7 separate regions of the Homo sapiens genome follow, and all the other regions are reported to be linked to region 7. Evidence: microRNA targets listed by miRTarBase, many of them from high-throughput screens and not tested one by one. Region 7 holds a microRNA gene; each other region holds the end of a gene's coding sequence. Distances are from middle to middle.

Evidence for each region. Region 7 holds the annotated microRNA hsa-miR-6499-3p (AGCAGUGUUUGUUUUGCCCACA, at 1,554-1,575, opposite strand). A microRNA usually pairs through its seed, bases 2 to 8, with sites in the 3' UTR of a target mRNA and lowers its output. Matches are read on the target gene's strand: a 7mer-m8 pairs with bases 2 to 8, a 7mer-A1 pairs with bases 2 to 7 and ends in A, and an 8mer does both.
Region 1: miRTarBase lists NFX1 as a target of hsa-miR-6499-3p. The part of its 3' UTR that is shown has no 7-base or 8-base seed match.
Region 2: miRTarBase lists ZFP36L1 as a target of hsa-miR-6499-3p. Seed matches in the 3' UTR shown: 7mer-A1 at 1,659-1,665.
Region 3: miRTarBase lists MOCS3 as a target of hsa-miR-6499-3p. Seed matches in the 3' UTR shown: 7mer-A1 at 1,214-1,220, 7mer-A1 at 3,020-3,026 and 7mer-A1 at 3,233-3,239.
Region 4: miRTarBase lists MRNIP as a target of hsa-miR-6499-3p. The part of its 3' UTR that is shown has no 7-base or 8-base seed match.
Region 5: miRTarBase lists ERC1 as a target of hsa-miR-6499-3p. Seed matches in the 3' UTR shown: 7mer-m8 at 2,773-2,779 and 7mer-A1 at 3,641-3,647.
Region 6: miRTarBase lists ZNF500 as a target of hsa-miR-6499-3p. Seed matches in the 3' UTR shown: 7mer-A1 at 1,113-1,119 and 7mer-A1 at 2,579-2,585.

Annotation. Positions count from the first base shown.
Region 1 is chr9:33,369,343-33,373,405 of GRCh38, forward strand. NFX1 (nuclear transcription factor, X-box binding 1) reads left to right here. Exons shown (of 24, transcript NM_002504.6): 24 at 564-1,815. The coding sequence ends at 636. Among named protein-coding and RNA genes, the nearest start is that of AQP7, 31 kb to the right of the region's middle. RefSeq lists an enhancer at 3,278-3,778.
Region 2 is chr14:68,785,991-68,790,055 of GRCh38, reverse strand. ZFP36L1 (ZFP36 ring finger protein like 1) reads left to right here. Exons shown (of 2, transcript NM_004926.4): 2 at 1-2,394. The coding sequence ends at 523. Among named protein-coding and RNA genes, the nearest start is that of ZFP36L1, 5.0 kb to the left of the region's middle. RefSeq lists enhancers at 1-71, 179-258, 269-328, 2,761-2,940, 3,230-3,524 and silencers at 3,801-3,850, 3,871-3,940.
Region 3 is chr20:50,959,604-50,963,659 of GRCh38, forward strand. MOCS3 (molybdenum cofactor synthesis 3) reads left to right here. Exons shown (of 1, transcript NM_014484.5): 1 at 1-4,056. The coding sequence ends at 622. Among named protein-coding and RNA genes, the nearest start is that of MOCS3, 2.8 kb to the left of the region's middle.
Region 4 is chr5:179,833,850-179,837,905 of GRCh38, reverse strand. It overlaps MRNIP (MRN complex interacting protein), which reads left to right. Exons shown (of 7, transcript NM_016175.4): 7 at 21-630. The coding sequence ends at 515. SQSTM1 (sequestosome 1) reads right to left here. Exons shown (of 8, transcript NM_003900.5): 8 at 1-1,470. The coding sequence ends at 1,313. Among named protein-coding and RNA genes, the nearest start is that of SQSTM1, 15 kb to the right of the region's middle. RefSeq lists enhancers at 912-1,061, 843-1,137.
Region 5 is chr12:1,489,856-1,493,920 of GRCh38, forward strand. ERC1 (ELKS/RAB6-interacting/CAST family member 1) reads left to right here. Exons shown (of 19, transcript NM_178040.4): 19 at 238-4,065. The coding sequence ends at 375. Among named protein-coding and RNA genes, the nearest start is that of LINC00942, 8.6 kb to the right of the region's middle. RefSeq lists an enhancer at 1-104.
Region 6 is chr16:4,748,900-4,752,964 of GRCh38, reverse strand. It overlaps ZNF500 (zinc finger protein 500), which reads left to right. Exons shown (of 6, transcript NM_021646.4): 6 at 1-4,065. The coding sequence ends at 589. DNAAF8 (dynein axonemal assembly factor 8) reads right to left here. Exons shown (of 10, transcript NM_139170.3): 10 at 3,569-4,065. Among named protein-coding and RNA genes, the nearest start is that of ZNF500, 16 kb to the left of the region's middle.
Region 7 is chr5:151,520,535-151,524,599 of GRCh38, forward strand. It overlaps MIR6499 (microRNA 6499), which reads right to left and starts at 1,614; the gene lies at 1,553-1,614. FAT2 (FAT atypical cadherin 2) reads right to left here. Exons shown (of 24, transcript NM_001447.3): 19 at 742-1,552. It also overlaps a transcript of SLC36A1 not described here. RefSeq lists an enhancer at 1,450-1,619.

The sequences.
Region 1 (4,063 bases), not on the chromosome of region 7:
GTGAGCCACCACACCTGGCCATCCCATGCTATCTTTTTAAAAACCCTTGGCTTGCTTTATTTTTGTATAAAACTCTATTATGGAAATGTTTTAGAGTAGAGAGAATAGTATTACTATCATAAATGCCCATGTGCCCATTACCAAATTTCAAAATCACCAGCTCATGTTTGTCCCACTATCAAAACTTCACAAGTGAGATGCTCGCTTGGCTTAAGCTGTTAACTGAGCATTCATTGAACTGTGAAGGCAGAGTAAAATCATCATCATATATGAAATCCTGTAAATAGATTGTGAAAGGTTACCTCTAAACTGTAAAGTGTAAATAGAGAATTTGTTATCTCACAGAATAAAATTCCCCATGTAATATGTAAATCTAGAAGGAAACACAAAAGTTAAAAAAATTGCTCACAAAGGGCAGAAGGAAAAAAAGTAAGACTAAAATAAAAATAAAATAAATGTTTAAGATTCACAAATGGTAAATCAGCTGATCCTTAACTTTCTGAAGTCCTGTATCTGTTTCCCCCAAAGAAGAAAAGACTGATCATTCTTTGTTTGTTTTTCAGGAATCCTGGGAGCAGTAATTTACAGAAAATAACCAAGGAGCCAATAATTGACTATTTTGACGTCCAGGACTAAGAAGATCATGATGCACTTAGATAAAAGAATGATTAGGTATAGTGGAGACTTATTTGCCAGCAGATAAATCATGCCCGTTCCCCTCTGCCTGGCAGAATCACAGTCTCACATACTGTCTTGTACTGACACATCCAAAGCATGAGTGTGTCAGAAATCCCTTGTCTATTCCTGTCTGTATAAAGTGTTTCATTATGACCAGATCTCTGATTGTATGGTCACTAGGTATGCAATCACGCATTCAAAGAGGCTCTTTACACCATCACTGTGATTGCTCTGAGAGTTGAGGGACTATTGGGCTTTATTTGGACAAACCAAACTTTTAGCCTGAAACCAACTTTATGCCACTAAGTCATAGCCTCAGTTGTCCCAGTTATTTGTCCTCCTGAAAATGCCTGAAACATCAGACAGACATTGCTTGCTTTACCCAAACTGATCAAAATCTTTAGGAGCACAAATGAATTTTTTAGTCTGAAATACCAAATAATGAATTGGTATACCATATCCGGAATCACACATGTTATCTTAAACCCAGCCATCATACCTAAGTCTTTTGCCAAAACCTCTCATAGGTATATCTAGCTGAACTTATTTTGGCATTTTCAATGTGATCAGTTCTAGACCTAGAAGGGGGTCAGGCTGCTTTACAGAATTCTATTTCCTTAAGTCCCTGGCACTTCTCATACCACATCACTGAACCTGTTCAGTAACAATCAGTTTGGCCGTCCCCCATGATGGTAGGAAATATAGAGAGCAAGTTCTTCTGCCAGGGTCACACTGTGGTCTCTGAACTGACCAGTATATCCCTAACTCCTCTTTGATAGAGAAAGAGTCTCAAATGGACAACTGTCCTGTGTTGCTTTCCCTAGGCCTTCAGCAGCCTATTGGCTCTCCCTGCCTCTGAGCTCTGGACTCTGTTTGAATATTCCAAGTAGTATATGGACAGTCCAGGGCTTATGCCCAGCAGCCCACTGGAGGCATTCTTCAGGCTCCTTTAAGGCAGGTGCATTGATAGTTCCATTAGTGTGACCCTTGCATTGGCACCCCTCCAGCCTGGAGGCCAGGCTTCCAGCAACTTCCTTCTGCCCTAGAGCAAGCCATGAGCCCCAGAGCAGTAGCAGGAGACTTGAGAAGTAGAGTGACAAAAACAAGCACTTAATTAAATTATAAAATTTAACTTTATAGGGCTGCCTTTTGGTGTTTTCATTTTTTTATTTCTTTTCATTTTTTTTCCTCAATCCTCCTCCTCCTGTAGCAGGGCTGTCCTTTGGTCCTTACCCAGTCTGCTTCAAAAGGGATCAGGTACAGCAGCAGGAACAGGTGACTGGAGGGAAGTGACACAAAACAAAACCACCTCTCTCTGGACCCATGTAGTGCAGGTCAGTGGCCCCACACACAACAGGAAGCCCATGAGCATCTGTTACCTCTTTCAAGCAGTGGGTTCAGTGGGTGAATAGTACGTGTGAGAGTATCTCAGAATCAGCAAAAGGCAGGAGACCTGACTTCAGATTCTAGCTGTGCCACATAATTTGCCGCTTGATGCGATGAAAGTTTCACTGACCTCATTAGGGTTATGAAGATTAAAGGAGTAATACACGTGGAGGTACCTGATCCTCAAAGTTCATAAAAATGATACTTAGTATCTAGAAAATATGTACACATCTTCCTCCATAATACTAGCCAAGTAGAAGGTGTGGAATGCTAACCAGGCCTCTTCTGGTGAATATTTGCATGCCTACCCTGTGCCAGCCTTGTGCCAGGGCTGTGGGAAGCAGCCTGGTTTCGTACATTTAGTAATCCAGGGAGGACACACGTGAACAGATGTTCTCAGTGGAATTGGCTAGTCTGCCACCAACAGGTTGTTAATCGGTTATTAAAAGCTGAAGAGTCCTAAGAGGAATATTTTGTGAAGTTGCGGTAGAAATGGGTTAGCTCTGGGGGTCAGAGCAGGACACGTGTGGGAAAGTGAAATGGGAGGAAGCATTTGAGCTGAGGCTTGAGATGGTAGGCTGCCATTTGGAGGAGGAAAGAGGCCCATGCTGAGAGAAGGTAAACAGCAGGAGACAGGGCTGGGGGAATGGTTGAGTAAGGGTTGTCCAGAGCAGGCAGACAACTAGGGGCACAGGTGATGAGGCTGGACAGGTGGACAGGGGTCAGCTCGTGGAGAGCCACAGGGAGTGACAAGAATTCTAAGCAGAGTGGCATGGCCAGATTTAGGATCTAGACCAGGATTCAGCAAATGTTTTGTGAAAAAAGATCAGATAGTAAATATTGTAGACTGTGAGACTTATAGTTTCTGTTGCAGCTATCCAACTCTGCCATCGTAGTGTGAAAGCAGCCGTAGACAATATGCAAATGAAAAGAGTAAGGCTCTGTTCTAATGCTTTATTTGTGCACACCGAAATAATTTCATATGATTTTTATGTCACAAAATATTCTTTTGACTTTTTTCCCCAACGATTTATAAACATAAAAACCATTCTTAGCTCATGAGTTGTGCAAAAACAGGCAGCAGGCTAGATTTGACCAGGGACTTTATTTTACCCACCCTGTTCTGGAGCAGTCCCTCAGGCAGAAGAGTATAGAAGGGATTGGAGGGCTACTTGGAGGCAGGAAGCTCAGCCAGGAAGCTGCAGAAGTGATCCGGGTGAGAGAAAATGAGGGTGATGGGGGTTGGCACTGCAAAGAGGGAAGAGATTCAGATCAGGGAGGTAGGATTGGATGCCAGAGGTTAGCGGGAGAACTAGCCCCCCTCATATCACCAAGGGGAGACCCCCGGTCTCCTCAGCAAGGGGAAGCTGCTGCTTGTAGCTTTGGTGGATTCCTCACTGAGCAGTGGCACTGGACAAGAGTGTACAGGAGCATGAGCTAGACGGGAAGACCCCTGTGCCTCCACCACCCCATGCATGGAGGGAGGGCACCAGGACCCCAAGCTGTTGCTCCCTGAGAATCAGGTGGTAACTTCTCTCCCTGCTCCCATACTCTCTTTCAGCAGGAGAGTTTTTATGGGCTAGAGCTTTCCAGCGACCAAATTCTTCTCTCTGAAATTCCCTCTGGCTTGTTTGGCAGGGCCGGCTGTTCTCAATAGTGTTACCTGCCTGGCATGCAATAGTGGGTGTGTGCGGGACTGTGGAGATGAGAGCAGGCCCTCCTAATTGCAGGTCTGTTGGCCACAGCCCTAGATCCTGTCTTGGAGAGGCCAGAGAAGGTGGCAGGGGAGGAGGAGGAGGAGGAGTGTCAGTCTTGAGGGAGGGGGAAGGGCAAAGACTCGCTCACTGAGTCCTATAGATTAAGGTTTGGGGGAGAATCCCTCCTGTGTAGTGCTGGCCTTCCTTCTTTATGCCTGAAAGCCTGGAGACCTTGTTCCCTAAGGAGAACCTGCTGATGTGCCTCCTCTTCTAAAATCGGGGAGGGACGGCCAGGCCAGCTC
Region 2 (4,065 bases), not on the chromosome of region 7:
CTTTTGCCCCTACGGGCCCCGCTGCCACTTCATCCACAACGCTGAAGAGCGCCGTGCCCTGGCCGGGGCCCGGGACCTCTCCGCTGACCGTCCCCGCCTCCAGCATAGCTTTAGCTTTGCTGGGTTTCCCAGTGCCGCTGCCACCGCCGCTGCCACCGGGCTGCTGGACAGCCCCACGTCCATCACCCCACCCCCTATTCTGAGCGCCGATGACCTCCTGGGCTCACCTACCCTGCCCGATGGCACCAATAACCCTTTTGCCTTCTCCAGCCAGGAGCTGGCAAGCCTCTTTGCCCCTAGCATGGGGCTGCCCGGGGGTGGCTCCCCGACCACCTTCCTCTTCCGGCCCATGTCCGAGTCCCCTCACATGTTTGACTCTCCCCCCAGCCCTCAGGATTCTCTCTCGGACCAGGAGGGCTACCTGAGCAGCTCCAGCAGCAGCCACAGTGGCTCAGACTCCCCGACCTTGGACAACTCAAGACGCCTGCCCATCTTCAGCAGACTTTCCATCTCAGATGACTAAGCCAGGGTAGGGAGGGACCTCCTGCCTACTCCAGCCCCTACCCTGCACCCACATCCCATACCCTCTTCTCCCTACCCATCCCATTCCCCACAGGCCCTACATTAACAAGGTTAAGCTCAACCCCTTTCCCCCAGCACCTCAGAATGTGCCCTCCCTCTCCCCCTCATAACCCCACCTAACATAAGGACAAGTCAATTTGTCAGTAGCTTCTTCTGGCTTGAAACCCCCTCCCTGGATTTTATAGCCCACTTACCATGCATAACAGACAAGTCCCATATTTTGTCAGTAGATGCCTTTTTTTTTCCGGCTTAAGCCTTAAGTGCCAAATCACAAGAGAAAAAGCAGTAACAGTTTACAGAAGCAACTTAGTGCCTTGTAATCTAACTTTGTCACTGTGACTACATTACCTCTTCAGCGCCAGAGGGCACCCGTGGGCCTCCCGGAGCCTCTGCCCATGGCGGGGTGGAGACCCGGAACCAGCAGCCCCCTCCACTGGCGACACAACTGCACCTTCCCTCATTTCAGTCTCCCGCACACTTATTCCTCCTCCCCTCTTCCCGGTGGCACCTCTCCACCTGTACCCGCCCCCCCACCCCCCCCACCCCTGCCCCTTGGAAGAGTTGTTGCCAGACCAGGGTTTTGGGGGAAACCTGTCTTGACATTCAAAACCTTTTTCTTCCCGATCTGAACCCCTGTTGACTAATCTTGCCTGGGTTTGTGTAGGTCTGCAGGAAGGAAGGCTGAAAAAGCGGACGAAGATTTTGACTTAAGTGGGACTTTGTGATTTAATTTTTTCTTTTTTTTAAGTGGGGAGGAAGGGGAAGCTAGATGGACTAGGAGAGACTTGATTTTGGTGCTAAAGTTCCCCAGTTCATATGTGACATCTTTTTAAAAAAAATAACAACAAAAAAAAAATGAGAGAAAAGCTAAAAAAAAAAAAGTAAGGGGTGAGCAGTTAATGGTATTCATTCCACATACAATATCTGTGTAAAACGATTTCCTGTAGAAGTAGCTTTAATGGTTTTTGCTCTAGAATACCGTAGGTCTATCCTTAGAGCACTCACGCCATGCTTTCTTCCCTGGGTTTTAAACTTCATATAACTTTCAGAAATTGGAGAGCAAAAATTTTGCTTGTCACTGCACATCAATATAAAAAAGCTTATTTAACTTATCAAAACGTATTTATTGCCAAACTATGCTTTTTTTTGTTAATTTTGTTCATATTTATCGGGATGACAAATCCATAGAATATATTCTTTTATGTTAAATTATGATCTTCATATTAATCTTAAAATTTTGTGACGTGTCTTTTTCCTTTTTTTCCACAGTTTTAATATATTATTCTTCAACGACATTTTTTGTAACTTTACACTTTTTTGGTTATTTTATTTTAAAAAAATGAAAAATTAATTTAAAAAAATGCAAAAAACTGTTGGATTATTTATTTTAGAAATTCCCCCCTTTGTGTTGGACTGCAAATTGAGTTTCTTTCTCTTTAGGCCTTTCACAACTAGGACTGAGAATGTATGTAAAAGTTCTGTGACAGTACAGAAGGAAAACAACTTTTTATGTATAGCTTCTAAAAGGGGAAAAAAAAAAAAAGAGAAACCCTTTGACTTCCACGTGCCCATCTCAAGACATTCCACTCACAGATTTGAGGTTCTGGATTCCAGGTCTGGAGTTTTCCAATGTTAATGTAAACAGAACTGGCACACACACATTAAGATGAATGTAATTATTATTCCTCTTGCTGGTCACTACCGTCGCTTTCTATTTCTCTTTCTTTGTGTGAATTTATTTAAAAGAAAAAAAAACTTTTTGTAACGACTATTTGCAGTTTAAAAATCAATAAACCCCGTTTTTTCAAGAAACATTGATGGTGGAGCTGGTTTTACTTGGTTTTGGTTTGACTTTGCCAGTAAGGTTCTCCCCTTGTATACCTTGCAAGTCCTGGGTAGGGGGAGGCGGAGAGAGAGGGCTGTGGCTGTGGGTGGCGGCATCTCTCATCCCTATAAGCTAAGCCTATAGCTCCCTTCCTTGATGCTGGCAGTTTGCTGCGCTTAGAGGGGACGGGGTGGAGGTTTTCTGCAAAGGAGCCTGTACTTCCTGCTGTATTACTTCTGAAAAGACTGTGCAGTGTGTTAGTTGTTGGCTGAATAGCAGCGGGCCCAGCCTTGCCGACACTTGTGTGGCCTCTGCGGTTCTTCTGGGGAGCCAAGGCTCAGGGCCTTCCAGTCCGCCCCGTCCAGCCTGTGCTCTTCATTCCTTTGGATGGTGTTTGGGGTGCCAAAATGATAAAAGAGGACCTAGCACTTGGCACACTTGCAGGCTTGGATTTGAGTGAGTTCTTTTATTGGGGTGCCTTGGGCTCATTTTGCCCATAAGAAAGAAATTTACCTCAGTACTGGCCTCTCAACACCTACCCGTGTGGGGAGGGTATAAGGAAGCACTGCCTGCTTGGAGAGGAATGTCCAGCGGGGTGAGGGGCTCAGTCACAAGGAACTGGGAACTGGGACTGGATTTGACATAGCCTTTTGGGTTTGGAGGGCTGTTAAGGGGAAGTGAGTGTTAACACTGGCCAACACAACACAGCAAGTCACCAAGGGTTCCCACCACCTTAGTTACAATCTCAGGTGCTATGCAAAATTAGGTATGTCGTCATCTTGGGAAAGGTGGGGTCTCCTTGGCTAGATGCACCCCCACCAAGGCTAGATGACCACTTAAGAGGTGGCATTTCACCCGCCGGAGGAGTTGGAACTTTCACAAATCTTGAGTGTGAGCCTTGGGAGGATTTATTTGGGGAGAGGCAGAGATTGCTATTTGCAGCTCACTTGCCTTTGGTTCCTTTACACCCAGGAAGTTTTGGGAGTTCAGCTGAGTCACCATGATTCCACCAGGCCTCTTCCGAAGGTCTGCAGCAGACATTGGGCAGGCCAGGGATGTCCCTGAGACTCGAAGACCTACCTCTACTCTCAACTCATTTCCCTGGTCATCAGATATCTACTGGGGGTCAGGGGGTGAGGTAGAAAAATAGGGACTATTACCTGTTCCAGGGCAGGGGCTGGTGGTTTAGGAAGGGGAAAAGCAGCCCTTCTTAGGACTGGAGTAAACCTAGGCCTCTTGTCCCTTAAGGAGGAAATGAACTTTGTGTGTGTGTGGAGGTGGTGGTGGTGGTGGTTGGTGGTGGCATGTGATCTTCCTTTCGGAGTAAAAGCAAAAAAGACATTTAATCATTCACCTTGAGCTCATTCCCTGCAGGCATACCTGAGCATGTGGCAGACACCTTTCTAACTTCCCCTCTCATGGTGACGCTGGTTAGGTTCCTAGAGGCCCAGGCGTACCTCCTGGCCAGCCCTGAATTTCCTCTAGAGGAGACAGTCCTTTGACTGAGTCAGTCCTTTGACTTTGTCTAACCAAGATAGAGACATTGACTACTGGAGGCCCTGGAGGGTGGGGGTTGGCTGTAAAGCCCAGGGGAGACTCCTTATCATGTGGGGAAGCTCCATGTCCCCGGGTCTTAACCCTTTACCTCTACCTAAGTG
Region 3 (4,056 bases), not on the chromosome of region 7:
CCTGCAGGCCTTGGAAGTGCTGAAAATCGCTGCGGGTCTGGGCCCCTCTTACAGTGGCAGCTTGTTGCTCTTTGATGCCCTGAGAGGGCATTTCCGCTCTATTCGGCTGCGGAGCCGCAGGCTCGACTGTGCAGCTTGCGGGGAACGGCCCACTGTGACTGATCTGCTGGACTATGAAGCCTTCTGTGGCTCCTCAGCCACTGATAAATGCCGCTCCCTGCAACTACTGAGCCCAGAGGAGCGTGTTTCTGTCACCGACTATAAGCGACTGCTGGATTCTGGGGCATTCCACCTGTTGCTGGACGTCAGGCCTCAGGTGGAGGTGGACATTTGTCGTTTGCCTCATGCCCTACACATCCCTCTGAAACATTTGGAACGCAGGGATGCGGAGAGCCTGAAACTCTTAAAAGAAGCAATCTGGGAAGAGAAGCAGGGCACACAAGAAGGGGCTGCTGTCCCCATTTATGTGATTTGCAAACTGGGAAATGACTCACAGAAAGCCGTGAAGATCCTCCAGTCCTTATCAGCAGCTCAAGAGTTAGACCCTTTAACAGTTCGGGATGTTGTGGGGGGCCTCATGGCCTGGGCTGCCAAAATCGATGGAACATTTCCACAGTACTGAGGTGACTGGTATAGTCTGATGAGAAAGATGTGGATTGCCATAATACCTCAAAGATACACTTGTTTGCATTTTTCGGTAATATACATAGGAGCTGGGGATTCTACAGTATCTGTGAATACGTGGACTCCTTTTTATAAGGAGTTTTAAAAATTGTTATGTATTGGATGAATGACTTATTAATGGATTATACCGTTTCTGAGAACCATCATTTTTTTTTTCAGCACACGGAGGATGTCTTGGACATGTGAGATGTAACGTGACAGGATTTTGCATTTTAAACTGCAGATCATTTACATGTCCTTATTTTCCACCTCCCCCAGTCAAAATGCTTTCTAAATCATTTTCACAGATTATATACTTCGGATCTGTTTACTGTTCAGTTAAGAAATTCTTGGATCTTATTAATATTTCAGATGATAGAATACATCCTACAGAAATACATGTTTAAAATGTAAATTGTTTTAATTATTCAGAAAGAGGGTCATTCTATTTGGCCTTTTGAATTAGTATCAAAATGAGATTTTTTTTTTTTTTTTGAGATGGAATCTCTCTCTGTTGCCCAGGCTGGAGTGTAGTGGTGCGATCTCAGCTCACTGCAACCTCCGCCTCCCAGGTTCAAGCGATTCTCCTGCCTCAGCCTCCTGAGTAGCTGGGATTACAGGCGCACGCCACCACGCCTGGCTAATTTTTGTATTTTTAGTACAGAGGGGGTTTCACCATGTTTGTCAGGCTGGTCTCGAACTCCTGACCTCGTGATCCGCCTGCCTCGACTTCCCAGAGTGCTGGGATTACAGGCGTGAGCCACCACACCCTCCCGAGATCTTTAAAGTTTACCAAAATAAAGGAAACCACCTTTGTAGTCTGTCAGTGTCTCTTATAAATTGCTACTGTTTTCTTAAAGTTAACTTCAGGGTCCACCTTATGTTGCACACATATCACATCGTTTAAATTGCATACTATGGTTTGACTTGCTTTGGAATTTTCAAGTCAAAGTCCCAACCCTTTGCCTCTCCCCCTTTAATTTGCCTTTTCTCTTTTGATTTAATGTTTTTTTATTCCAGCATTTTATACTAATGTAAAATGTTTTTATGTTTGTTTACTTAACATTTTCATAAAATAGTAGGTAGTCTCACCAACTTCCAATATATACAACAACATTATAAGTAAAAATTTGATTTGTGAGTGCCTATCAGTGGCCAGATGAACTAATGGCTTGTCAGAAGGGGGCCTGTGACCTCCTGCTTGCTGCATGCAGGCTTATAATCATCAATTGCTGCTGTTGTTTTTTTAAGAATGGCAGAAATCACAGATACAACTATAAAATCTTTGTATTTCTGTTAACCATTTTTTTTAAAGCTTAAATGTATCATAAGCCAGCAAAAACCCTTTGTAGACCAGATTTACTTACCAGTTTGCAATTTGTGATATAGAATCTTGTTTTATTATAAGAGGGTGGTATTTAACAAATTCAAAATTAGTCATCACTTTTTAACTGTGAAACATTGTAACTAATTCTTTGAACAGGTATACTTAAAGTATGGTATACCCTTCTGTTATAAAGATGAAGCAGGTCTCTTATGACTGTTCCTGCCAACGAGTTATGGAGGTAAATGACTGTGACCTGGAGTGGAGAACAAAGATGGCTGGCCTGTGTTTTTCATCTCCTTCTTCCAGGGACAACTGATTCTGATACATAGCAGGAAACAAATAGCGACACACAGGAACAATTTCATATTCTAAAGACTGAAGTCCTAAAGTTATAGACAGTTGTAGTTCCTATAAACCTGGTTGTCACAGGGGACAGGCAAGAGAAGCTGACTAGCTAAGTGTTAAAAGGTTTACTAAAGTGATAGGAGGTGCTTTTGAGAATTTTGGGGACAGATTCAAGGCTGTACTTCTAGGAATGATGCCCGAAATCATGCACAAAACTGGCCTTAGGAGAACAGTGTCTATGTTGTGCTGCCCTATCAAGTACCGGAGGAAACGCCACTACAGTCTCACCAGTTTCACTTGACGTGCCCCCCCAACTCTCCCAGAAAGCCCAACACTTCAGCCACAGTCCATGTGTCGAGAAACAGAGTCACTACATTATTCTTTTCTGAGTCAAGCCTTATGAGGGTGCCTGGTAGGCAGAGTCTAATTACATGCCTACATCTTAGCTGCAAGAGAGGCTGGGAATTTGTGTTTTGATATCTACAATAGGAAGACAGAACTCATGATGTGGGATTTTCCCAAATAGTGAAATATTTTTCAAAAGATGGGCTGTTAAGAATATAACAGATACCCAGTACACAACCCAGATCTATTTCAGTATTTGTTTTTTGTTGTTGTTGTTTTGGAGACAGAGTCTCGCTCTATCCCCCAGGCTGGATGGAGTGCAGCGGCACAATCTCGGCTCACTGCAACCTCCACCTCCCATGTTCAAGTGATTCTCATGCCTCAGCCTCCTGAGTAGCTGGGATTACAGGCACCTGCCACCACATCTGGCTAATTTTTCTATTTTTAGTAGCGATGGGGTTTCGCCATGTTGGCCTGGCTGGTCTTGAACTCCTGACCTCAGGTGATCTGTGCACCTCAGCCTCCCAAAGTGCTAGGATTACAGGCATGAGTCACTGCACCTGGCATATATTAGTATTTGAAATTTGGTTTTCTCTGGGGATTGTAGCTAGGTTTTTATGGTGAGATAGGATTTGAACATAATTTGTTTTTTGAGACGAAGTCTTGCTTCGTCGCCCAGGGTGGAGTGTAGTGTTGTGATCACAGCTCGCTGTGGCCTCAACCTCCTGGGTTCAAGTGATCCTCCCACCTCAGCCTCTCAAGTAGCTTGAATTACAGTTGTATGCCACCATGCCTAGCCATTTTTTAATTTAAAAATTTTTTGGTAGCAATGGGGTCTGAATATGTGGCCTAGGCTGATCTCAAACTCCTGGGCTCAAGCATCCCTCCTGCCTCAGCCTCCCAAAGTGCTTGGGATTACGGGTATGAGGCACCATGCCCAGCCTGAACTTGATTTTTTTGTTGTTTCCTTTTCATAACAAACATCAAATGCCTTCAGTGTACTAGTTCTTCTAGGTTCTGGAATAAAAATGAGCAAGAGGTTTCCTGTTGTAGAGGAGTTTATATTTAAATGGTGATAAGTAAATTACTGATAAGTGCCATAAAAGAAATGAAACTGTGACATATTAGGGTGGGGGAGGGGATCTGTTTTGAATAGCTTAATTATGGAAGGCCTCAGAGATGACATTAAACCCAAAACCTGAAAGGTGAGAAAGAGCCAGTTACAGAAGATCTGAGGAAAATTCTATACTGGGAGAAAAATAACTGTAAAGACCTCAAGGTAAATAAACTTGGAATGTTCCGTTCAAGAAACTGCAGAGGCAAGTTGGGTTGCAAACAATTAGGGAGAGTGGGACAGGGTGAGGTTTGAGAAGCAG
Region 4 (4,056 bases), 28 Mb from region 7:
ATGGCCATCTTCTCTTTCAGGGACAGGCTGGCCTGACATGGAAGGTGAAACAAGGCAGCAGCCCCTGCCTCCAGGAGAACTCTGCAGACTGCAGTGCCGGGGAGCTGAGGGGTCCTGGGAAGGAGCTATGGAGTCCCATCCAGCAGGTTACAGCCACATCCTCTAAATGGGCGCAATTTGTCCTGCCACCTAGAAAAAGTTCACATGTGGACAGTGAGCAGCCAAGGTCTCTTCAGAGGGACCCCAGGCCAGCTGGTCCAGCACAGGCTAAGCAAGGGACCCCCAGAGCACAGGCCTCAAGAGAAGGCCTCAGCAGGCCCACTGCCGCTGTCCAGCTTCCTCGGGCCACACACCCCGTCACATCTGGGTCTGAGAGGCCTTGCGGGAAGACCTCATGGGACGCAAGGACTCCCTGGGCAGAGGGTGGGCCCCTGGTCCTGGAGGCACAGAATCCTCGACCCACACGACTATGTGACCTCTTTATAACTGGGGAAGACTTCGATGATGATGTGTGATCTGGGACTGGCAGGTTATTAATCGAGATACACTTGTTAGGAGGGACAGGGTTCCCCTAAGGCACTTTTAAAGATACTCTGTAAGAACCATTAACAATAAACTTACTGTCAATCATTTCTCTCTATGCAAACGTCATTGGTTAAAGTGCTGATGCCATTTAATTAGATTGTTTACAAATTTAACAGGATGGCTACAAAGAGATCTTATTTTAAAAGCAGCTGATGGTTTGGAAATGAGAGAACTACAGTGGTGAAGAGACCAGGAGGCAGCTCTCAGTGAAACCAACATTGCGGATGCCCTTCGTGAGCCTTCTCAGTCCCAGCAGGAAGCCCACAACACTGGCCTCCCCAGCCTGCCTGCTGACAACACCTAGGCTTACTTTATCTAAAATCAGAGTGTACCAGGTCTGTAGCAGAAAATAATCAACTAAATGTCAGGGACCTATGAGTCATTTAAAACAAAAGAGAAAGTGAAAGCCATTAGGCAAGCTATGTGCTGGGCTGCTAACGTAGCCCCTGCAGGGAGGGGTCAGGAGCGCGCTGCAGTGAGCCTTGGGTCTCGCAGGCCCAGCCCTGCTGCAAGGAGCCAGGGCACCCAGGAAACATCAGCACACACACACACAGGGACCCTCCCTTCATGTCACTTGTTTTGCTGCCCTAAATGGCTTCTTGCACCCTAACCCCTGATCCTGGAAGAAGGCAGAGAAACTGGCCCGTACAGAGACCTGCAATTCTACGCAAGCTTAACACAACTATGAGACAGAAGAGGGGCACGCAGAAGAGGTGGGCAAAAGTGGTCACAACGGCGGGGGATGCTTTGAATACTGGATGGTGTCCAGAGCCGCTCCGATGTCATAGTTCTTGGTCTGCAGGAGCCTGGTGAGCCAGCCGCCTTCATCAGAGAAGCCCATGGACAGCATCTGGGAGAGGGACTCAATCAGCCGCGGGTCAGCCTCTGCCGAAACAGTAAGGAAGCCATGAGGAGTGGTGCTGAGCCCTGTGAGTGACCCGAAACACATACCCTGCTGCCTTGGCCAGCCAGGACCAGGGTCTGCCAGTGTCCGAGCCTGCCCAGAGCTCTCGTCCTCACAGGCCACAGTGGACCTGCTTTCCCTGTAAAGGGCCAAGCAGTCTTTTTCACACTGCTCAACTCTGCCACTGCGACACCAGGCAGCCAGGTGGTGTGTAAGCAGAACCATCAATGGACACTGAAATAGGCATTTCACCTGTCACATCTTTTGATTTTAAAATGTAAGAACAGGCCAGTTAGCCAATTATTACACTCCTCCATGCAAGAGATGATGGGGCATTGAAATAGATTGAAGATGGAGAGAGATGAATGGATACAAGATACATTTTGGAGGTAGAATGAACAGGACTTGGAAATGTATGTGGAGAAGGCAAAGGAGTTAAAGATGATATCTGGAGCAGCACAACTCACAATTGCAAAGATGTGGAACCAACCTAACTGCCCATCAAGCAATGAGTGGATAAAGAAAATGTGGTATATATACACCATGGAATACTACTCAGCCACAAAAAGGAACGAAATAATACCTTTTGCAGCAACTTGGACGGAGCTGGAGGCCATTATCCTAAGTAAAGTAATTCAGGAATGGATACCAAATATCATATGTTCTCACTTATGAGTAGATGCTAAGCTATGATGATGCAAAGACATAAGAATGATATAGCTTTCCCTCTCCCTCTTTCTCCACGGTCTCCCTCTGATGCCGAGCCAAAGCTGGACTGTACTGCTGCCATCTCGGCTCACTGCAACCTCCCTGCCTGATTCTCTTGCCTCAGCCTGCCGAGTGCCTGCGATTGCAGGTGCGCGCCGCCACGACTGACTGGTTTTCGTGTTTTTTTGGTGGAGACGGGGTTTCGCTGTGTTGGCCGGGCTGGTCTCCAGCTCCTAACCACGAGTGATCCGCCAGCCTCGGCCTCCCGAGGTGCCGGGATTGCAGACGGAGTCTGGTTCACTCAGTGCTCAATGGTGCCCAGGCTGGAGTGCAGTGGCGTGATCTCGGCTCGCTACAACCTCCACCTCCCAGCTGCCTGCCTTAGCCTCCCAAAGTGCCGAGATTGCAGCCTCTGCCCGGCCGCCACCCCGTCTGGGAAGTGAGGAGCGTCTCTGCCTGGCCGCCCATCGTCTGGAATGTGAGGAGCCCCTCTGCCTGGCTGCCCAGTCTGGAAAGTGAGGAGCGTCTCTGCCCGGCCACCCATCGTCTGAGATGTGGGGAGCGCCTCTGCCCCGCCGCCCTGTCTGGGATGTGAGGAGCGCCTCTGCCTGGCCGCGACCCCATCCGGGAGGTGAGGAGCGTCTCTGCCCGGCCGCCCCGTCTGAGAAGTGAGGAGACCCTCCGCCCGGCAGCCACCCCGTCCGGGATGTGAGGGGCGCCTCTGCCCGGCCGCCCCTACTGGGAAGTGAGGAGCCCCTCTGCCCGGCCACCACCCCGTCTGGGAGGTGTACCCAACAGCTCATTGAGAACGGGCCATGATGACAATGGCGGCTTTGTGGAATAGAAAGCGGGGAAAGGTGGGGAAAAGATTGAGAAATCGGATGGTTGCCGTGTCTGTGTGGAAAGAAGTAGACATGGGAGACTTTTCATTTTGTTCTGTACTAAGAAAAATTCTTATCCTGTTGATCTGTGACCTTACCCCCAACCCCGTGCTCTCTGAAACATGTGCTGTGTCCACTCAGGGTTAAATGGATTAAGGGCGGTGCAAGATGTGCTTTGTTAAACAGATGCTTGAAGGCAGCATGCTCCTTAAGAGTCATCACCACTCCCTAATCTCAAGTACCCAGGGACACAAACGCTGCGGAAGGCCGCAGGGTCCTCTGCCTAGGAAAACCAGAGACCTTTGTTCACTTGTTTATCTGCTGACCTTCCCTCCACTATTGTCCTATGACCCTGCCAAATCCCCCTCTGCGAGAAACACCCAAGAATGATCAATAAAAATAAATAAATAAATAAACAAAAATAAGAACTACTCTTGGCCCATAGGCCATAGCTCGCCATCCCCTGCCCTAAGGCAGAGAAGACACACAGCGGCGGCCCACAGCAGGTTGTGCACACGGACCTTGGTTTACACACGGCTGCCATGTGACAATGAGGAGTTTCTGTCAGCTGTCCCCACCCCCCACCCCCCCACTGCTGCCTGCCACACCATCCACTTCAACGGTGGCTTCTGCCTGGCTCCTACAGGGATCTTGGCTATGACCCCCCCCCCTCTCAGACCAGCACTCCCTGAGGCGGCACTTGAGTGTGAGTAGTAGGGACACACCCAGTGCTGCCCCCTCTCTGTGTCACACCTGCCTTAATTCCTGGTCTGCATGTTAAGTTTTAGAAACTCCTACAATTAATATTCCTGGCTCTGGAGTTTGCCTAAAGAAAAACATTTTCAGAACTGCATTAGCAGAGCTTACTCGCTATTGCTCAGGGTACACATAATAGGACAAAACCAACTCCTAACCTCCCACACCTACAGACAGCCCTGCAGTGGAGAACATCTCATCCTTCTGTTTGTGTCGCTGAAA
Region 5 (4,065 bases), not on the chromosome of region 7:
AAGTCACAGCTCTGCAAAAATGATCAGCTTTCGGCCTAGAACCAGTGACTAACTTTTTGGGCCTCACTTTCATGAAGACGCATTTGATATTTGCTTTTACACTTTTCTTATGGTTAATTTTGATGCAGAGAGACTTCACATACAGAGTGCCTTTGTCATTTATTGATGAAAAATAATTCTTAGCTCAGTGCAAATGGGATTGTTGTATCTGAAATCCATCTCTCCTTTCCCTTTCAGCTTCAGGATGAGTTAGAGAAAGGTGAACGGGACAATGCAGAACTGCAGGAGTTTGCCAACGCCATTCTTCAGCAGATAGCAGACCATTGTCCCGACATCCTAGAGCAAGTGGTCAACGCCCTGGAAGAGTCCTCTTGACCCTGCTTTATGGGGAAGCCTGAGGTAGTCAACCCAGGAGCCAAGAAAAGAGAACTACGAGGAACAGGTGCCCGGAACCTTCTTGGCACCAAACACTACAAACTTCATCCCAACTTGCTCACTTGAAGAAGTGTGATTCCAGCACCGTTTCTACATCTGCCATCTTACTCTGCCTTTCTGCTTTGGATGTGGTCTCTACACTAACCTTCTTGATGTCCAGGGTAGATAAAGGGTCGAATCTCTCTGAAGAACTGCCACCTGGTCATCAGCAGTGGAGAACTGTGGGAGCTGGTGGCTCTGCCCTGACAGAGAGCCATGGAGCAGAGGAGCCTCTCACCTCCTGTCCTCTGACATGAGAATGAAACCAGGAATGGACTTGGAGTTCAACAGGCTGAGAGGATGCCTCCAATGGACCAGAGAGCTGAGTGTTCTAATATCACAATAGGTGCTTTCTCCTAAAAGGGCAAAAAACAATCTCAAAAAGATTAGAAAAAGAGAAGGGGGGAAGGGAAGAGAAAATCGACTCTTCTTTTTACTGTCTCTTCTGCTTACTTTCCACATGAGATGCTTTGTACCGGGGAGCTGTGAGCAGGCCTCACGATGGCTTGGGAGCACTCGTTCTCCCAAGGTCTGAGTCTTCATCCAGCCCTGCCTGTCTGTCGCAGCCTTCCTCACTCTGTTCCTCGGCCAGTTAACAAGAAGATGGTGTGAGGTGTTCTCCACCAGTCTCTCCTGTTTGAGACTGTTGACGTTATCATACTGAGGTGTTAGATCAAATATCTCTAATTGAAGAACATGTGAGGTTGAAAGAGCACCAGCCAGGGCAACATAGCGTGACCCTGTCTCTACAAAAAATTAAAAAGAGAACATACAAAGTTGACATATGAGACCCTGTTGTCCCCGCCTGCAGCTTTGCCCCAGTAACAGATGCCCGTTGCTCTTGGGCTGGTTTCCCCTGAACACCTCCAAGAGGCTGCCTGCCTTGCCAGCACCCGTGTCCTGAGCTCCTGCAGCCCAGTGGCTGCTGAAGTTGTGATCCCTCACTCACCCTGCTAGCTTTGCCCTTGACTCGTCTTCTCTGAACCTCAGCCTCGTGCATTGCCTGGAACCTTCTTCTAGCATAAATGAAGGTTTTTCCTCCTACACACATTCCTTCCTCGGTTATTTCATTCAGAGAATATTTATGAAATGCCTACTGTGTGCAAGTCATCCATCCTTGAAAAGGCCACTTCTCAGTGAGGGAGAGATGTAGTGGATTCTGTGAGACATACCTGCTGGAGTTGAAGCAGTAAATAGCATGTCCTTCCCCTCCCCGATCTTAAGGTGTGTTTTCTAGAAAAGTTCCCTAATGGAATTCATGAGTTTGGGGGTCTCAGTCACCCGCTTGCCTGTAGGATTCCATTTGATGATTCTGGATTTTTGCTGTTTGTTATTGCCCTTAGAGGGGCTCTGAGTATCTACTTGTGGGTGGCCATTTCCTGACATCTGCATGTACCTCGTGGAATTCAGCCAGCTTCATGTTGCAAATCAGAAAGCTGACCCCAAGACTGCAAATCAATGAAGGTATTGGCATTGTTAAGGACGTAGCGTAGACAACAGCAGTCATAAATAATTAGGCAGGAACTTAACCCAAATCTAGTTCTTTGACCACCTCTACCACCAGAACCCAGCAGACACTCACATCTCCTGATAAGAGTTGCTGGACTCGATGTTTTTGTTTTGCATTTTCTCCTCTCCTTCCCCACTTACTCAGAGAATTTAAAGTCTGTAGAGTCAGCACAGCCCCATCAGTCCAGGAACTTCCCACCACCAGCCCTTGACTGTCCCATTAACTGACATGGTCAGATTTCCAGCTCCCCCTACTCCCTGCTGTGAAACAATCCCTCTCCCTGTGAGAGGAAACTGTGGAGCGTTTCTTATCGAAGGTTAAATGGACTCTGCTCATAAACCTCTTACTGAGATGCTTCCTGATAGCCAGGCTGGCCAGAGAGGGGTGCAGGGGTTAGATAGTAAGTGGTGGTCGTTTGTGGTCAGTTACCTCAATTCTGTTCATTGCAGTGCCCGTAAACCATGTAGAAAGCTCCCAGCACTGAAAGGCAGGAGTGTTAGCATCTCGCTTTATCCACCATAACGTAAAGAACTGCGGTGTGATAACAGCCTTCACGGGGCCACGGTGGAACCAAGACAGCAGGCGAGGCCATGCCTAAACAAGTGGTCTGGCACGGGCACTGGCCAGCTGCTCTCTCCAAGCAGGTGGCCCAGATCCCACCCACGTGGACTTTCTCATCAGGTGCAGCGCCTGCCACTCTCAGCCACTGGGTGTGTCACTCTCCTCTTCATCTCAGCATTCTCCATCACTTCCCCTCCAGAAAAACGGATGGAAGGAAGCCCTCTGTGACACTGCTTCTGAGAAGAAGCATTTCCGGGACCGATATCATCTGTCTGGTCTCTGTGAACAGCAAGGAATCTTCTTGACCGTTCTTGGGCACTGGAGGCTGGCTAGGAGTTCAGTAATAAACGTGGCCTTCGTGCTGTAGGGCAGAGTGGATGCAGTTTGTAGCTTTCAGAGTGTCTCATTGAGTCTAGATCATTGAACCAACACTTAACCAAATGTCCCACTCCCATCACACTAGGACTTGTCATTCCATGCCCCTCTCCTAGTGGTCATGGTTTCATATGGGCATACAACTGCTACTGAAGTTATATAGCCTTGAAAACTCAGTGCAGGTTGCCCTTAATTTTCCCCAAACCCCTCCATCGGCAAGTCTAGTTGCCCTTTAGCACCTAAAGATCTGCACCCCAAACCAATGTCACCATAAAGAGGGCACGAAGAAGAGTGGGTGTGATCCCAACGGGGTTTTGTAACTGAAGAAGCCCAGTGTGAGCTTCTCATCTTTTCATATACCTCTAACCCCCGGTACTCATTGAATCATTGATGAGGTATCTCAATTGAGATTTGCAAGGACTTTGATACCATTTGAAATGGAAAAATTTTGAACGGGCTTTAACATGTTTAAGAAATATGGATGGGGCCGGCCACAGTGGCTCACGCCTGTAATCCCAGAACTCTGGAAGGCTGAGGCAGGCGGATCACCTGAGATCAGGAGTTCGAGGCCAGCCTGGCCAAGATGGCAAAAACCCCGACTCTACTAAAAATACAAAATTAGCCAGGCGTGGTGGCGTACGCCTGTAATCCCAGCTACTCAGGAGGCAGGAGAATCGCTTGAGCCTGGGAGGCAGAGGCTGCGGTGAGCCGAGATCGTGTCACTGCACTCCAGCCTGGGTGACAGAGACTCCATTTAAAAAAAAAAAAAAAAAATATATATATATATATATATATATATATATGGATGGGAATCACCAAATTCATCTCAGCTCTAACCTTTTAACCTTTGTCCTTGCACTTTACAATCTAAAGATCTACCTGTGGCTCTCAGACTTCCTCACACTTGGGTTTTAGAAATAACTTGTAAAGCAGACTGGACCCAAGGCCGCCTTCAGTGTCAAGAAGGGCATTGTGACTTGCCCCTCAATTTCTGTCCATTGAAGTCTGGTTTTCCATGAGGAACTTGCGGGCTCACCCACCCCCAGAGTGAGAGAAGAGGAAGGCGAAGTCATCACAGACACGGTCTTAGCCACCTGCTGAACTAATCCCTCCGCTATTGAGGGTCAGGGTTGTGAGGCAACCAT
Region 6 (4,065 bases), not on the chromosome of region 7:
GCCTGGCCACCCGCTCCCAGGTCAGAGGCCAGCCCCAGTCAGGGGCTTGGTCAGGCCTGATCAGCCAAGAGGCGGCCCCCCACCAGGAAGACGGGCTTCCCATGGGGCTGACAAGCCGTACACCTGCCCCGAATGTGGCAAAGGCTTCAGCAAGACGTCCCACTTGACCAAGCACCAGCGCACACACACGGGCGAGCGGCCTTACAAGTGCCTAGTCTGTGGGAAGGGCTTTAGCGACCGCTCCAACTTCAGCACGCACCAGAGGGTGCACACAGGCGAGAAGCCCTACCCGTGCCCCGAGTGTGGGAAGCGCTTCAGCCAGAGCTCCAGCCTGGTCATCCACCGCAGGACACACAGCGGGGAGCGGCCCTATGCCTGCACCCAGTGCGGGAAGCGCTTCAACAACAGCTCGCACTTCAGCGCCCACCGCCGGACGCACACAGGTGAGAAGCCCTACACCTGCCCGGCCTGTGGCCGGGGCTTCCGCCGGGGCACCGACCTGCACAAGCACCAGCGGACCCACATGGGGGCAGGCTCCTTGCCGACGCTCCAGCCGGTGGCTCCTGGAGGCCCCGGTGCCAAAGCCTGATCACCAGGCCTGAAACTCCCTTTCCAGGACTCTCATCCCTGGGCACAGAATTCAGGAAACTGCTAGACAGCCTGGTCCGAAAGCATTGCCAGCTGCCCGTTTCCTCCCATGGCCCAGTATGAGGCCAGCAGGGGACATTTGGGATGCCCAGGCCGCAGAGGAAGCTGGGCACTGGGTGCAGAACAAGGGCAAGGACAGGCTCTGAGTGTCCAGTGGCAGCCAGAACAGGTGACACAGAGCAGGGGCTTCAGCCACAGAGACACACTCAGGAGGCCAGAAGCCGACACTCAAGGTGTTCGTGGGGCTGGCTCCTGAAGGGCCTGGGAGGGTCCATCAGCTGCCTCCAGCATCCAGTGGCTGCTGGCATACAGCCTCATCCCCACGTCCCAACCCCTCTCCTGTGTGTCTGTGACCCTGTGCGCTGTCTCTGTGTGTACCCCCCACCTGCTCCCCCCCCCTTTTTTTTTTGAGACGGGGCCTTGCTGTGTCCCCCAGGCGGGAATACAGTGCCATGATCATAGCTCACTGCAGCCTCGAATCCCTGGGCTCAAGTGTTCCTCCTGCCTCATCCTCCTGAGTAGCTGGGGTTACAGGTGTGTGCCGCCATGCCCAGTCTCTTTTTTGGTAGGGCCACCACTCACTGGGTTTAGGGTCCCCCAATACACTGTGACCTCATCTTAACTAATTATATCATCAAAACCCGTGTTTCCAAATAAGGTCACATTCTGAGGTCTGGGTGCACATGAATTTGAGGGACCCCTCGTCTGCTGCAGGGAGCCCTGCTGTACCCCAGCCTTCCCAGGACGTGGTCTCCAGCTTCTTCATCCTGCCAGAGTTTCCAAATGGAGCCCGGGGCTCTGCAGCATTCCAGTCCCCTTTGCAGATCCATAGCTGCTCTGCAGGGCGGAAGACACCTGGGGCGGGAAAGCACCCCTGAGTTCCATCTTCCTGACATGTTGCCTGGGATGTGACGGGCCTGACATCTCCCCAGGGCCGGGGCCCAGGGCTGCGTTTGCTCCTGGCCCCTTAGTGTCTGGAATGTGGCCTTCCACGGTTGCCCCACTTTGTCTTTCTAAGGTAAGAAGCCTTCACCTTCCAGCTTTTGTCTGGCCTGTGCTGCGTGGGAGCCACTGGTCTGTGCACATCCACGGTGGGTGAGTGGCCAAGACAAGCAGTGTGATAGAGTCCTTGGTGGGTTTAGTCATCTCGGAAGTCGTAGGGCAGCTATGGAAACCACTGGGTTCTGGAACGTTCCAGCCAGGCAGTGGTTGTTCCTCATAGGTAGGTGGCCTTGGCCTTCATCCCAGCCTGGGATGCTCCATTGCATTTGTCACCTAGTCACTGTATATACGTGCACATTTGACCTTTTGGCACAGCCCAGGTTCCAGGTGCGTGACCTGCCCTTTTTCTCATTCCCTTAACTGACATTATTTAGTGTCAGAGGCCGAGCACAGTGGCTCCCACCTATAATCCTAGCACTTTGGGAGGCCAACGCGGGTGGATTGCTTGAGCCCAGGAGTTCAAGAGCAGCCTGGGCAATATAGAAAGACCTCTTCCCTACCAAAAAAAAAAAAAAAAAAAAAAAGCCAGGTGCAGTGGCTCACGCTTGTAATCCCAGCACTTTGGGAGGCCGAGGCAGGTGGATCACAAGGTCAGGAGATCGAGACCATCCTGGCCAACATGGTGAAACCCCATCTCTACTAAAAACACAAAAATTAGCTAGGCATGGTGGCGTGGCACGTGCCTGTAGTCCCAGCTACTCGGGAAGCTGAGGCAAGAGAATCACTTGAACCAGGGAGGCGGAGGTTGCAGTGAGCCGAGGTCGCACCGTTGTACTCCAGCCTGGTGATAGAACGAGACTCCACACAAAAAAAAAAAAAATTAGCCAGGCATGATGGGGTGTGCCTGTAGTCCCAGCTACTTGAGAGGCTGAGGCTGGAGGATCACTTGAGCCCAGGAAGTTGAGGCTGCAGTGAGCTGTGATTGTGCCACTGCACTCATCCTGGAAGACAGAGTGAGATCCTGTCTCAGATAAAATAAACAATTTTTTTTTTAAGTCATTGCTTCTGGCCCCTGTGTGCTCTGTCCTGTGTCTGCAGAATGGGGCTGCCTGGTTGAGGGACGGCTTTTACCTTCTAGACTAGCTCTGGGATCTCTCATGGGGCATGAGGTACCCAGCTAGATGTGGCCAGGCCACACTCCAGGAGCTAGCAAAGCACCCAGCGTTGCTGACACCCATCTCCCCAGCGCAGCCTGAGCCCCCAGGCCCCTCTCTCATATCCAGGCCTGTGCTGGAGGTGGCGGCCTCTGGGGGAGTGTGGTTGGGGTCTGCCCACTTCCCTCCCCCTGCCGAGGCTGTGGCCTCCCACTGGCTGCTGCTTGGCCCCATCTCATGGTCGCTGCCTGCTGCTTGGCCCCATCTCATGGGCGTCATCCTCAGCACTCACGTGATGGGAGAGTTTTGTAGGAGCTGTGAGTCCCAGGTGCCTGCGTGTGCTGTGATGTTATCTCATGCAGTCCAGTGAGGGGGGACTCCCATTAGTCTCCTTTTTTTGTTTTGTTTTGAGACACAGTCTCACTTCATTACCCAGGCTGGAGTGCAAGGCACGATCTTGGCTCACCACAACCTCCACCTCCCAGGTTCAAGTGATTCTCCTGCCTCAGCCTCCTGAGTAGCTGGGATTACAGGTGCGCACCACTACGCCTGGCTAATTTTTGTATTTTTAGTAGAGATGGGGTTTCTCCATGTTGGTCAGGCTGGTCTTGAACTCCCGACCTTGTGATCCACCCACCTCGGCCTCCCAAAGTGCTGGGATTACAGGCGTGAGCCACCGCGCCCGGCCATGATTCTCCTTCTGTGGGTGGAGGAACTGGGCACTGGGAGCGTGAAAACCTTGCCCAGGTGGCAGAGCCAGCTTTGGACGCAGGTCTGACTTCCTACCTCACTCCCCTTGCCTTGACAGACACAGTAATTCAGAGTTGAACTTGGAACAGAGTTTATTTTCCATCACTGTAAAACATTCTCAGTGAGGTTACTGGCATTAAAAAGGTGGGAGAAATGGAAGAAAATGGGGTTGAAGAAAAAAAAAGCCTTTGCTCTTGACAGCTAGGCAGCCACAGCGGAGGCCGCCAGGCTGCGAGGGCAGCGTATGGGGGCAGAGCCCGGTTCTGGCGGCACAGGCCCCGGAGTGGAGGGGGCAGGGGAGGGTCTCTGTAGGTGGGAGAGGGCCTGGGGGCTGGGAGGCAGCCTGGCCTTGTGCCCTACAGGAGGGACCTCCTGGGACTTTATGGAAGCCTGTCTTGCCTTTGACTTGCAATGAAAATGCCCCTCATCATTGGGAGTGGGGTCGGGTGGGGGTCCCCAGTGGCCAGATCACGTGGGGTCCAGAGAGCAGACATCTGTAGCCCTGATCTTGGCGGCCAGTGACCACGGCCAAGCAGGGCCTGTCTTTTGCCTGGTACAAGGCTTGATGAGA
Region 7 (4,065 bases):
GCTACCACGGGAATGACAGTCACCGTTGATCTGGGGCTTATTGTGGGCCAGCCATGGGTTAAGTGCTTTTATAACTCTTACGTAATTTCCCCCCCGAACCCAACTCCAGGAGGCAGATGTATTTATTTTGACTATTTTATAGATGGGAAACTAAAAAGCTCAGAGGGTTTTAACAATACACCCAAAGTTACACAGCTAGTGACTGATGGAGCTAGGGTTTGAACCTGAGCTGTCTGAGTCTAAGCCTTGAGCTTATAACCACCAGACTATGGTAATAATAGTAGCAGTATTAGTAACTCACATGTATTGACCACTTTCTATATGTCAGGCACTGTTCTAAGCAAGCACTTGATACATAGTACTGATGTAATTCCTACAGCAGCCCAGCTCAAAGGCACAGAGAGGTTAATTTTCCTAAAGTCGCCTGGTTAGTAAGGGGTAGAGCTGGGATTTTAACCCATGAAGACTGAAGCCACAGCCTATGCTCTTAGCCATGATGTTAAACCACATATTGTAGTCTTACTGTTATTTTCTAAATCTCGAAAGGGAGCTGAGAATTGGGTATTATTCCATAACTAGATTTTGTGAGGCCACTAGCCGTCTTATGGTGATTGGTGGCCTTTGGGCTTATTAAAACTTCCCTGAACTCTCCCACAGAGCCTCAGTGGAATCTCCATGCTTAGAGTCAGGCGGGCTGAGCCCAGCAGTGCTGCTCGTCCCTAGGGAAGATGTAGTACTTACCATTGCAGGAGCAGCTCCTCTGCAGGTGGTGCCGCGGGGTTAGGATGCTGAGCCTGGCGGTGCTGTACGTGGGCCCAACCTTGGGGTCCAGATGCACTGTGTTATGGCAGATTTGACCCTGGCAGGTTGGCCCCTGGCAGGGCACCATGGGCATAGCTGACCGCATCTGAACCCCCACTGAATGCTCCATCTCCTTGGCTGAGTGAGTGATGATGGATGCTAGCTCCTGAAACTCGTAGAAGGTTCCAGAATGCCCCTCAAAGACCAGGAGCACATCCACACCAGCCACGGCCTCTGCAGGCTGGAGGCTGGCCAAGTGAATGTTAGCCCGTTTGATGTCCAGCTTATGGCTGAGGAACCTCTGCAGGTTCCGCCAGTGGTCACTCACCAGCTCCTCGGGGGTGAGCTGGTAGAAGCCCATCCACATGGCCTGCTGCAGAGCCTCCTGCCCCACATGCCACACGTACACATGGACCCCAGCAGTCGTGGTGAAGGTCCCATCGCTGACCGTGACGTTGAACGAGTAGTGGCCACGAGGCAGGCCCTGGGCGGCGATAATCTTGCCATCAGGCGCACCCACTGAGAAGTGCCTGCCCAGGGTCTCCTCTTCTGCCAGGCTATAGGTCAGCGTGTCCTGGGGGTCTCGGTCTGTGGCATGGATCTTACCCACCATGCCACCCTGGAACTCATCCTCTCCAACAGTGATGAAGATCTCCAGTGGGAGAGCAGAAGGTGCATAGTGGCTCTGCTCTGTGACATGGACACGGACAGACGTCAAAGACGAGAGGGGAGGGATGCCACTGTCTGACGCCTGTGGGCAAAACAAACACTGCTGTCACCCAACAGAACTGCAGTGCTCTTGCGCCCGACTGAGGCTGGGCCTCCTTGTGGAGCTACGTTTCTCTGCCCCACGCCCAACTTGAGGGCTGGCTCAGCGCATTGTTGCATTTAGAAAAAAAAAACCTAACTCCAAAAGCACTGACAGAAAAGAAAGATTTTCTGAAGGTTTTGTAGAGATTGAAGGAGGGAGTTACATCCTATACCATGCAGTAAAACAATGCAGTTTCCTCATGTGACATCTCTCTGAGCCTCTTCCTAAATCTCTCCAGCCATAGACTTGGGCTAACTTCCTCATGAAGTTTCTCATTCTGTCCCTGTCCTCAAGGGCGCCCTCAGATGTCTCAGCAATTCTGATGCACCATGCACCCTGCTCAGCCTACGAAAATTCCCCTTGGGATTCCCTTTTGCTATGCGATTGGAGTGGGAGTCGGGATTTGTCCTTCTAGTCAGTCAACGAAGTCTTCTGCTGTGGCCAGGAGAAAAGAGACAATAAATAAGTTACCAAATAACTTGGATAAAATGCTGGGAAGGAAATAAACAGAGACCTAACTTTGATCAGGTAGAAGAGAAGGAGTCTCTGTGGAGTGACATTTGAGTCCTGAGGGATGAGAAGAAGAGGCGACAGACAGAGGGAGCAGCAAGTGTAAGGTCCTGGGGTAGGAATGAAGGCGGTGTGTTCAACAGCACAGACGGGGTCACTGGTGCTGGAGCAAGTGGGCAGGGAAGCAGGCCTGACCTCACTGATGGGCTGGCACGCGCAGGGTTGCAGTTAATGTCAGAACTGTGAAAAGCCGTGAGGGTGACAGGACCTCACTTAAGTAGGGAAAAGAATGTAAATCATAAACGCATTTTCCTTTCATGTTTCACCACACATCCCTGCAACTTCCTGCCTGACTTAGAAAGGACAGGCTTGCCTTCTTCTCCTCAGTGATGTTATCACTTCCTCAGCTGTCAACGAGGGTCTCCACAATTTTCCCTGTAGTAATATCTTGTTCACCTGCACTCCAACACTTTTAATGTACAAGAAAGTTGATAAGATTACACCTACTGCTGGAAGTCATGCATAACACCGAAGAGATATTAATAGCAACAATAATAATTAACACTACTGTTAATTATAATGTATAGCTAACATTAGTTACAACAATACTACTACTACCGATTATATATAATACATAGCTAACATTAACTGAGTACAATGCTAGTCATTATCATAGATAAACTATGATAATGCTGTAAATACATTATCCTAGTTTATCCTTCTTATGAGATAGGTACTATCAAGTCACCCATCCTACAAAAAATATAACTGAGGCTCAAAGAGGTGAAGTAACTTGCCCAAGGTCATACAGCAGCAGATAAGGCCTGAGCAGAATCTGAATACCTATCTGTGTCTATAGCCTGTGTTTTTCTTTGCTGGCCTATGGTGCCTCCCAGTGCATGGAAGTGGAAGTACGGGACCAATGCAATTGATGGTGATGATGCCAGTCATTACTAAGCTCCTGTCTAGGCAGGACGTGTGCCTGGGTCTGAGAATACAGAGGTCAGGAAGCCATTCTCTCTCATCTCTCCCTAGGCAATCACATCCATGCTCTTGGCTTTGAGGGCCATCTACCAATCCTCTGAGCTGCCAACTCCAATTCCCAGCTACCCACTGGACACCTCTGCTTGGATGTCTCACAAACAACTGGGAAATAATGTGCAAAACAGAGCTTCGGTTTAGCCCATAAACCTGTCCTGCCTTCCCGTCTGGGCCTTTCCAGTCTCATAAATGCACTACCACCGAAGTCTTCATGGGAGCCAACAATTTAGAAATCACCCCTGAATCGTCTCTGTTCTTTCTAACTGCACATCCACTCCACCAACTCCTATCAATTTACATACAAAATATGTCCGAAATCTCTCCGCTTCCTGCATCTTCTCCATCACTCCGTGGTCTCAGCCCCACTATCTCCAGCTTGGATGACTTCTCACTGGTCTCCCTCACCCACTCTATAGAGCTTGAAAAATGAGCTTCCTGAGACACAAAGAGGATCCCTTTTCCGTCTGAAACCCTCCAACCACCTCTCATTGTACTTAGATTAGAATCTAAAAGTGTTACCAAGGCTTATACTTAGAAGATTGGATGCCCTGGTTTGTCAAGGACAGTCTTGATTTTTACCTGTTGTAAATCAGCTACTACCAAGTATTATTTTTAGTGCCTGTTTTGGACTCTATGTTTGTGTCCCCTCAAAATTCATATGTTAAAATCTAATCCCCAGTGTAACAGTATTTGGAGGTGGAGCCCTTGTGAATGGGATTAGGGCCCTTATGAGAAGGGCCATGTGATACAATGAGAAGCCGACAGTCTGCCATTCAGAAGAGGGCACTCACCAGAACCTGGCCATGCTGGCACCCCGATCTGGGACTTCCAGCCTCCAGAACTGTGGGAAATACATTTCTGTCCTTTAAGCCACCCAGCCTATGGTGTTCTGTTGTAGCAGC